Homo sapiens: one gene and its partner. The protein of the gene in region 1 purifies or fractionates together with the protein of each later gene. This does not show direct contact. Each region holds a gene or a part of one and is shown on either strand. Other genes may lie near its edges. The genes, in order: RGS12 and NBEA.

Region 1 (4,419 bases):
TAAGTGAGTGGTGCTTTGTTACACAGCAATAGGAAACTCATACAACTGGGAAGGGAAATGTTTCTAGGAATTCCACCAAATTCAAATAAAATGTAAAATGGTCTGGGCTTTAGGATTTTGTGTGCTTGAAGCCCTGCATGTGTTAAGTCGTAACTAATGAGTTGTTTATTCCTTCAGCCTGCTTTTTGTTGTTGTTGTTGTTGGTTTGTCTTTGTTTTTGAGATGGAGCTTTTTTTTTTTTTTTTTTTTTGAGACAGAGTTTTGCTCTTGTCACCCAGGCTGGAGTGCAATGGCGCAATCTTGGCTCACCGCAACCTCCGCCTCCCAGGTTCAAGCGAATCTTGTGTCTCAGCCTCCCGAGTAGCTGGGATTACAGGCGTCTGCCACCACACCCGAATAATTTTGTATTTTTAGTAGAGACGGGGTTTCACCATGTTGGCCAGGCTGGTCTCGAACTCCTGACCTCAGGTGATCCACCTGCCTCAGCCTCCCAAAGTGCTGGTATTACAGGCGTTAAGTCACTGCACCCAGCCCAGCCTGATTATTTTGCTTGGTCAGTCTCAGACAAAAATAAAGGTCCAAAGTCAATGTGATCCACATACTGTCAACCAGGCCTGCAGAGCCCACTCAGCCCCCTTCTATCAGCCGGAAGCGCTGACTAGCGGCAGCCTCAGCCTGTCCTCCATCTCCTCTACCCCCGACCTTCCCACAGCAGCAGCCAGGCCGGCTGGGTCACCAGCTGTCACCTCTGGGCCCTCACCACCTCCAGGACCTCACTGAGTCCCAGCTCCCAGCGCCACAGGTCTCCTCGGCCTGGCCACCCCTTCTTCCCCGAGACCCTCATCCTAAACAGGGCAGAAAGGGAGCCAGCCCTTGACCCTGGATTCCCTCCTCTTTGCAGTGCCTGTCGAGTGCCTCCCTCCCACCTCCTGACCCTCCCCAGGACATGCCCTCAGGCCGCGCCACCCCTGCCCTCTCCTGAGCACTCCACAGGTCAGTACTGTACCTCCAGTCCACGTGAGGGGCCTTTCCTCCGCCCTTGTCTTTGTCAACCTCCCTGAGACCTCCGGTCACCACTGCCCTGTCGCTCCTCCCTCTGCTCTGCCAGTCACAGAGGCATCCGCATCATTGCAGTTACCAGGGCTAGAACTGTAAGCCTGTCTGATGGCAGGTTCCAGCCTCAGGAGGTCTCAGAGATAAGGCTGGACTTGCAGTTTTAAGAAAAAGACCCAGACAGGGGTGCACCAACTTGTGCAGGCTCAGCCACCCCACTGCCCTTGCCTGAGCCCCTGCCCTCAGCCAACATGGCCTCCCCCACCTGCAGAGCATCCAGCTGAGGCACCACGCAGGGCCCGGGCACCGGATACCCATCATCTCAAGTCCCCAAAAGCACTGGCCACGATGGACCTTTTTATATCGCTTTTTCAGGGGAAGAAACTTCGCACTGTGACAATTACTTTCTAAAGTGAAATATAAACTGGTTCTCCCTTACTCAGAATTGCTCTGCCCTCCCCACGTCGCCTTCTCTAGGGGAAGGCCAGCAGGACTCCACCCCAGCAGCCCTTGCTGCCCAAAGCCGCCTCTCTGCCCTCCTTGGTAGTCTCCTTGCTGTGAATGGTGGGGCTGCTGCCTTGCCTGGGAAGGCCCCCCAGCGCCCCTTCTGTGCAGGCCTTGCCGGCCATCCTGCACGTCCCTGTGGCCTCAGAAGGGCCCTGCACAGGACGGCATGGACCACGCTGAGGACTTCAGACAAAGACACTCTTAGCCCTTGCAGCAGCTCCAAAGACAGGTCCAATGAGGAAACTCAGGCACAGAGAAGGTGGTCACCTGCCCAGGGACACATTCCCAGCAAGTGACCAAGCAGGTGAGAGGCCAGGTGGTCCTCTCTGTCCACACTCCACGGCTCTGGGCCCCCTCTGTGTTCACCCTCCACTGTCTACACTCCATGGCTCTGGGCCCCTTCTCTGTCTGCACGGCTATGAGACTCTGTCTACACTCCACAGCTATGGGTCCCCTCTCTGTCTACACTAGATGGCTCTGGGCCCTCTCTCTGTCTACACTCCACGGCTCTGGGCCCCCTCTCGGTCTACACTCCACGGCTCTGGGCCCCCTCTCTGTCCACACTCCACAGCTCTGGGCCCCCTCTCTGTCTACACTCCACTGTTTATACTCCATGGCTCTGGGCGCCCTTTCTGTCTACACTCCACAGCTCTGGGTCCCCTCTCTGTCCCCATTCCACAGCTTTGGGCCCCTCTCTGTCTACACCGCACGGCTCTGGGACCCCTCTGTCTACACTGCACAATCGCGGCACCGCGGCTGAGGCGACCCCAGGTCGCTGCAGTGCGTCTGGAGTTCGGGTCTCGGAAGGCAGCTTCTGCCCTAACAAAGCGGCCGCTCGTGGAGTCCGACGAGGGAACCCTCCCAGCGCTCCCGGGCGCATCTCGCCCGCGGGACCCCCTGCCCGGCGCCGCCCCCGCGGGTCCCGCCAAGGGCCCGGGCGGGCCTCACAGCGCGGGGCCCCAGGAGGCCGCGCACCCGCCCGGCCGGAGGCCCCACAGGCCCGCGCCCCGCGCCGCCCGCCCCCGCCCCCGCCCCGCCCCGCCCCGCGCCGGGCCCGGGACCAGGAGCCTGAGTCAGGCCGGCGAACAAAAGGCAGGGCGGGCGGGCGGCGACCCCGAGGGGACGGGCGCCGCGCAGGGCTGGCCGGGATCGGCCGGGAGGCGGAGGGCGCGGGCGCGCGCCCCGGAGACGAAAGAAAGAGCGGAGGCGGCGCGCCCTGCCCCCGCCCCGGCCCCGGCCCCGCACACCTACCGGGCCGCGCCGCTCGCTCCCGCTCCGGGCGCTTCGGCCCGCGCCACCGCCCGCGCGCGCAACGGTCGCCTCGGCAGCCACCGCCCCCCGGGGTCGAGGCGAGGGCGGGGCCGAGGCCGGAGGAGGGGCGGGGACGGAGAGGGGCGGGGCGAACCTGGTGAGGCGGGGCCAAGGGGGTGGGGTTGGGGCGGGGCGATGCGGGGGCGGGGCACGGGGCGGGGCGAGGGCCTTCGCGTCGGGACAGCGTGGTAACGGGACTGCCAGGGAAGCAGGGATGAGAAGAAGCGAGGGACGGGGCCTCCACGGCCGGGGGCGGGACTTCCGTTGGGGGCGCGGCGGCGCTGGTGCGCACGGTGTGTACCCGCACTGGCCCGGCCCTGGTGCTGGGAGCGACTGCGTTCCCGCAAGCTGGTTTTCTCTGCCTCCGCTGGCCCGGGACACCCTGCGAAGGGCAGGTCGGTGTGGCCGGGAGGAGCCGCCCCTGCCTGGGCTGTCTCTGTCCTTCGCCGTCGGTGTCCGAGGAAGTCCCGCTCCCGTTGGGTCTCTGTGCCCGGGAAACCTGGCTGTGGGGAGTCAGGCCCCGGCGCCCTGGCTTTTCGGCTGGGCAGATGCCCGGAGCTGGCGGCAGCTTCGGGGGCGGCGTGAGTTCCCGCGGCGAAGCCACGGGGACAGCCAGGAAAGGCCGTTCCCTCCGGGCCCCGGGACGCCCGCGAAGGCGGCGCGGTGACTGCGGCGTCCAGCGGGTCTGCCCCTCCCGGAGCGCGGGCAGCAGCGAGGGCGGGACCGGAGGCACCGCTGGCACGAGAGGAGGAGCTGCCCGGCCCCGGCCTGCGCCTCTGGCCCTGTCCCAGCCGCCGCCTTCACCCTTTAGGCCGGAGTTCCTTCCTCGCCCTCTTCGTGTCTTCCTTCCCCGGCGCTGGGTCTCCCTGCCCCTTCCTTCCTGCCTTCCCCTCATTCTCTCCCGCCGCGTTTTTCCCTCGAGACGCATCCGTCGCTGCTGTTCACGCTCCAGCCCTGCCGCCCGCCCAGGGACTCGGCCCCTCTCGGGTTTGCTTCTTTCCTGTCACCTGCCTTGATGGGCTCAAAACGCTTCCCCTCCGTCCCCGCCACCGCCCCATGGTTTCTTGGCAGCTCTCCATCATCTAGTCTTGTGTGATTAGTTTGGATCCCAGGAGGAAACCAATGGCATTCTCAGTGGGACAATTAATTAAGAGTCCAGCAGGGTTCCCGCTGGCAGAGGCGCGGTCCGGGAGCCGGGAAGCCACAGGGCGGTGCTGAATTGGGACAGGTAACAGCAGGGAGGGAACTGTTTTCACCTGCAGGGCTGAAGGAGCGCGGCCAGAGCGGTTACAGGAAGCCAGACAAAGAGAGAGAGATACTTAACAGGAGCTGCGACCTATGGCCAAGGGACACAGCCAGCCCTTGATGACCCAGCAGAGAGAGCCAGGGAAGAGGCCAGGCGCGGTGACTCGTGCCAGTAATCCCAGCACTTTGAGAGGCTGAGGCGGACAGATCGCCGGAGCTCAGGAGTTCGAGACCACCCTGGGCAAGATGGCAAAACCCCATCTCTACTAAAATACAAAAAATTAGCCAAGCGTGGTGGCACGC
Region 2 (3,809 bases), on another chromosome or scaffold:
AAACATTAAGGCATTTTGTACATATCAAAAAGAAAAAACTAAATAATACAAATTAAATTGTGGAAATAGAAAAAATAATGCCAGAAAGTTTAAGACTTCAAAGCTGGCATTTGTTAGTCCTAAAGCAAGTGCTTAGTTTCATTAAGTAACTGGAAATAATCAACAAATACAGCTATATATGATTTATTATAAGGATTGCCAAAATCACACAGATAACTCAGCAATATTAAAAGCTATTTTCTTTTAGGCTAAGTATTTCAATGTTACCCAAACCAAATATGCCAGTTAACTTCCACACATTTATGTAAGCTTAAACAGAGAATAAGCAGCTAATAATATACAATAACCAAAGTACTATTACTATGTTGGTTTTCACCATCTATTGCTCATATGTGCACCCTTCCCAACAACTGATGTTAAAAAATTCACACATATCATTAAATATATAAATTTACAAGCTATTAAAATATCACAGTTTTATCCTTATATAAGCTGTTTTGGCTTTGTTACTTTACTTAGGCTTCTTTATTAATAATCAGAATACTTTTTTTTTGCACAAAGACCTGCAATGTCTTTTTCTTTGCTATTTTCAAATTTGTTAAAGCAATGATAAATCTGAGGTGTCAATACTTCACAAAATGTAAATTTATAATTGAAACAAAAGCTTTTCTAATATTTTTTAAAGTTCACAGACTTTCTCTTACAGACATGGGTTCTATTAATGTATATTTAAATAAGTTAACAGAATTTTAGATTGGGGGGACCATCCTTTAAAGAATATCTCATAATACAAAAATCCCCTTAATTTTACAGAAGAAGAAAGCAAGTCCCAAAAGTGGGGGTTGGTAACATAAGGCCCATGGGACAAAACTGCTTATCACCTCTTTGGGTGAATAAAGGTTTATTCAAACAAAGCCATGATCATTCATTTACATTATGTATTGTCTTTCACACTGAACGGCAGAGTTGAGTAGCTGCATCAGAGGCTATAGAGCCCACACAGCCTATAATATTTACTATCTATCCTTTTAAACATTTTTTTCTAACTCGTGTTCAAGAAGACTTAATGAGTCTCCTAAAATCACAAAACTCAATTATGGCACAGACTAAATTAAAAGCCATACTTCTGACACCCATGCTTCTTCTATAACACTTCATGATGAGAAACCCATAACTCTGAATTTCCAGAATCTAATGTGTATATACTTGTACAGTTTAATTCACTATTTCATTTTACCAAAGATCAAATAATACTTAAAATAGACATACAGATTTTTAAGATTAAAAATAAAGAAAAGATAAAGCAATTAAAATACCACTAAACTTAAACACTGTATTTATGATTCACTTGGAAATAAAAAAATCTGACTTCTTAAAAAAAAGTCTTAAAAAGTATATTTCAGAGACTATTTCATAAAATATTCTTCCAAGAACCAGTTGAAAGAGCAAGTGGCTCAGATTAAAGTTCCCAGATTTGCTATAAAACAGATGTATGTCAGCTTTGGGTATAAAACTCCTGATTTATAAATTTGGGGTTTGAATTAATTCATCTATAAGCCACTTTCAAGTTCTAACAGTCTATGAACAATGAGGGAAAAATACAAAACTGAGATACAGGAATCTGTCAAAATCTAAGATGCCCACAAGATGGCACCAGATGCATGTTTGTAGCCATTTAATCCACTGCAATAACTCTGATGATGTTAAAATGTTAAATCCCGTGTTACCTTGGAATGGGCTATTGAGAGGGTATCCACCCAGACTCTCCAGCCTCCCCATTCATATTTTATTGCATGATACAAAAGAATCCGGAAGATATTGTAGACCATTTCGGTAATCTTCTGTTCCTCAGAATTTTTAGGATTGATATAGCCAAGAGAAAACATCCAATCCTGCCACACTGAACACTGCAATAAGCATCTAGGGAGAAAAAAATTTGATCTCATTAAAAATATCCAAATTAAGTTAGAATTTACTATTTTGAAACTTTGATAAATAAAATAGTGAAAATATGATCTGACCTCAGTAAAGCAAGGTGTACAGTCATGCTGCACGTTATATATTCTATACTTGGAATGACTTTCTCTTATTTCTCTACCAGGAAAAATCCTAATTATCATTCAAAATCATTTTCCTAACTTTCACAGTCAGATTTACTTATTGCTTCTCTACTTTCTCACCACCTTTAGCACTCACAATGTACTTAACACATTATACATTAATCATTGCTTTATGGTTTCCCACTGGAATGTACTGAGACTGTGTACTAAGACTATCTTGTGTAGCACAAAGTCTTACACTGAACACAGTAGGCACTCAATCAATATTTGTTAAATTATAGACTCAGGCAATGACTACCCCAGAGTTCATGGCCTCAGACTTTACCCCATGTTCAAGCTAACTAGCTTAAAAATGCACAACATTCGGCCATAAGAAATATGGGGTGGAAAGCATAGATGAAAATGGGGAAATCCAACACAATTACAACTGAAAGTTCCATTGGTGATAGATAGGTACCACTAAAAGGGATATTACATTCTAAATAAGAGTTTGTTTATATGTATATTCATATATACAATTAAAATATAATATCCACGTAACAAAATAAAAATAATATAAAAATAAATAGAAGAATACCGAATACAGATTATGTCAAAGAAACATAAAATGCCTTTTCTGATGATTAAAAGTATTTAGCAATATGGAAAAGATTTGAAATGAATTGAAAATCTAAAAGAGAGAAAATATTAATTATGGAATAAAGTGTTGTTACAGTATCCAAACTGCTTACCTTCTATTTTCACGGCTGTTACTGAAAAGTTTTATCATATCAGATAAAAATAAACGACGAACTTCCATCAGCTCTGCACTTGGTGTAGAGTTTTTTAACAAAGTTGCCACCACTTTAAGAATCACTGTAAACAAAGAAAAAAAACTTGTAGATTTGTAACCATATCCTATGTTCAACTCAAAAAGTATTACCAACTTTCAAATAAATACTTAACACTATAAAAGGTGAGTTAAAACTGTCATGAACTAGGTAAACACCATAATGATTTAAGGGGTTAGGAAAAGTTTTGATTTAGTCTCATATGTTGCCATGCGCCTACCACAATACAGTAAAGAACTGCCATTTGCTCACTTGGATTCTGAATTTTCACTGTAGAATCTGGCTCTGGATGTGGTTTGTGTACGACCTGAGTACATACTTGTTCTGTCAAGATCTGAAAAATGAAGAATTTGAACTTCATTTAGAAAACAATTTAAATAATAATTGCAAAATATAGATATACAATGAACCTGCAAAAGAAATGTCAATGCAGTCCAAACCAAAAGAAACATCTCTTCTAAAGGGACTTTTTTCTTTCTTTCTTTCAAGACGGAGTTTCACTCTTGTTGCCCAGGTTGGAGTGCAATGGTGCAATCTTGGCTTCAACCTCCACCTCATGGGTTCAAGTGACTCTCTTCCCTCAGTCTCCCAAATAGCTGGGATTACAGGCATGTGCCACCACGCCTGGCTAATTTTTTGTATTTTTAGTAGAGACAGGGTTTCACCATATTGATCAGGCTGGTCTCGAACTCCTGACCTCAGATGATCCACCCGCCTCAGCCTCCCAAAGTGCTGGGGTTACAGGTGTGAGCCACCATGCCCAGCCCTAAAGAGACTTTTTAATGAATTCCACATACTTCTAAACTCTTTAACTCTGTATTCACCAAATTTTATTTATTATTTATACATACAAAACCAGAACCAGTATCTATAGAAGGAAAGATTAGGAAATTAATGAATTTATTGTTTGAAATGCCTT

What was found.
Region 2: the proteins of RGS12 (region 1) and NBEA purify together in Homo sapiens (affinity purification with mass spectrometry; one large-scale study listed by BioGRID and IntAct). This does not show direct contact.

The regions. Positions count from the first base shown.
Region 1 is NC_000004.12:3,291,492-3,295,910, reverse strand, and holds the start of RGS12 (regulator of G-protein signaling 12), read right to left. Parts: upstream 2,891-4,419; 5' UTR 2,812-2,890; intron 2,387-2,811; exon of another isoform or gene 1,007-2,386; intron 1-1,006. UniProt on the Homo sapiens protein: Regulates G protein-coupled receptor signaling cascades. Inhibits signal transduction by increasing the GTPase activity of G protein alpha subunits, thereby driving them into their inactive GDP-bound form.
Region 2 is NC_000013.11:35,155,189-35,158,997, reverse strand, and holds part of NBEA (neurobeachin), read right to left. Parts: intron 3,225-3,809; coding exon 3,143-3,224; intron 2,916-3,142; coding exon 2,792-2,915; intron 1,921-2,791; coding exon 1,728-1,920; intron 1-1,727. UniProt on the Homo sapiens protein: Binds to type II regulatory subunits of protein kinase A and anchors/targets them to the membrane. May anchor the kinase to cytoskeletal and/or organelle-associated proteins.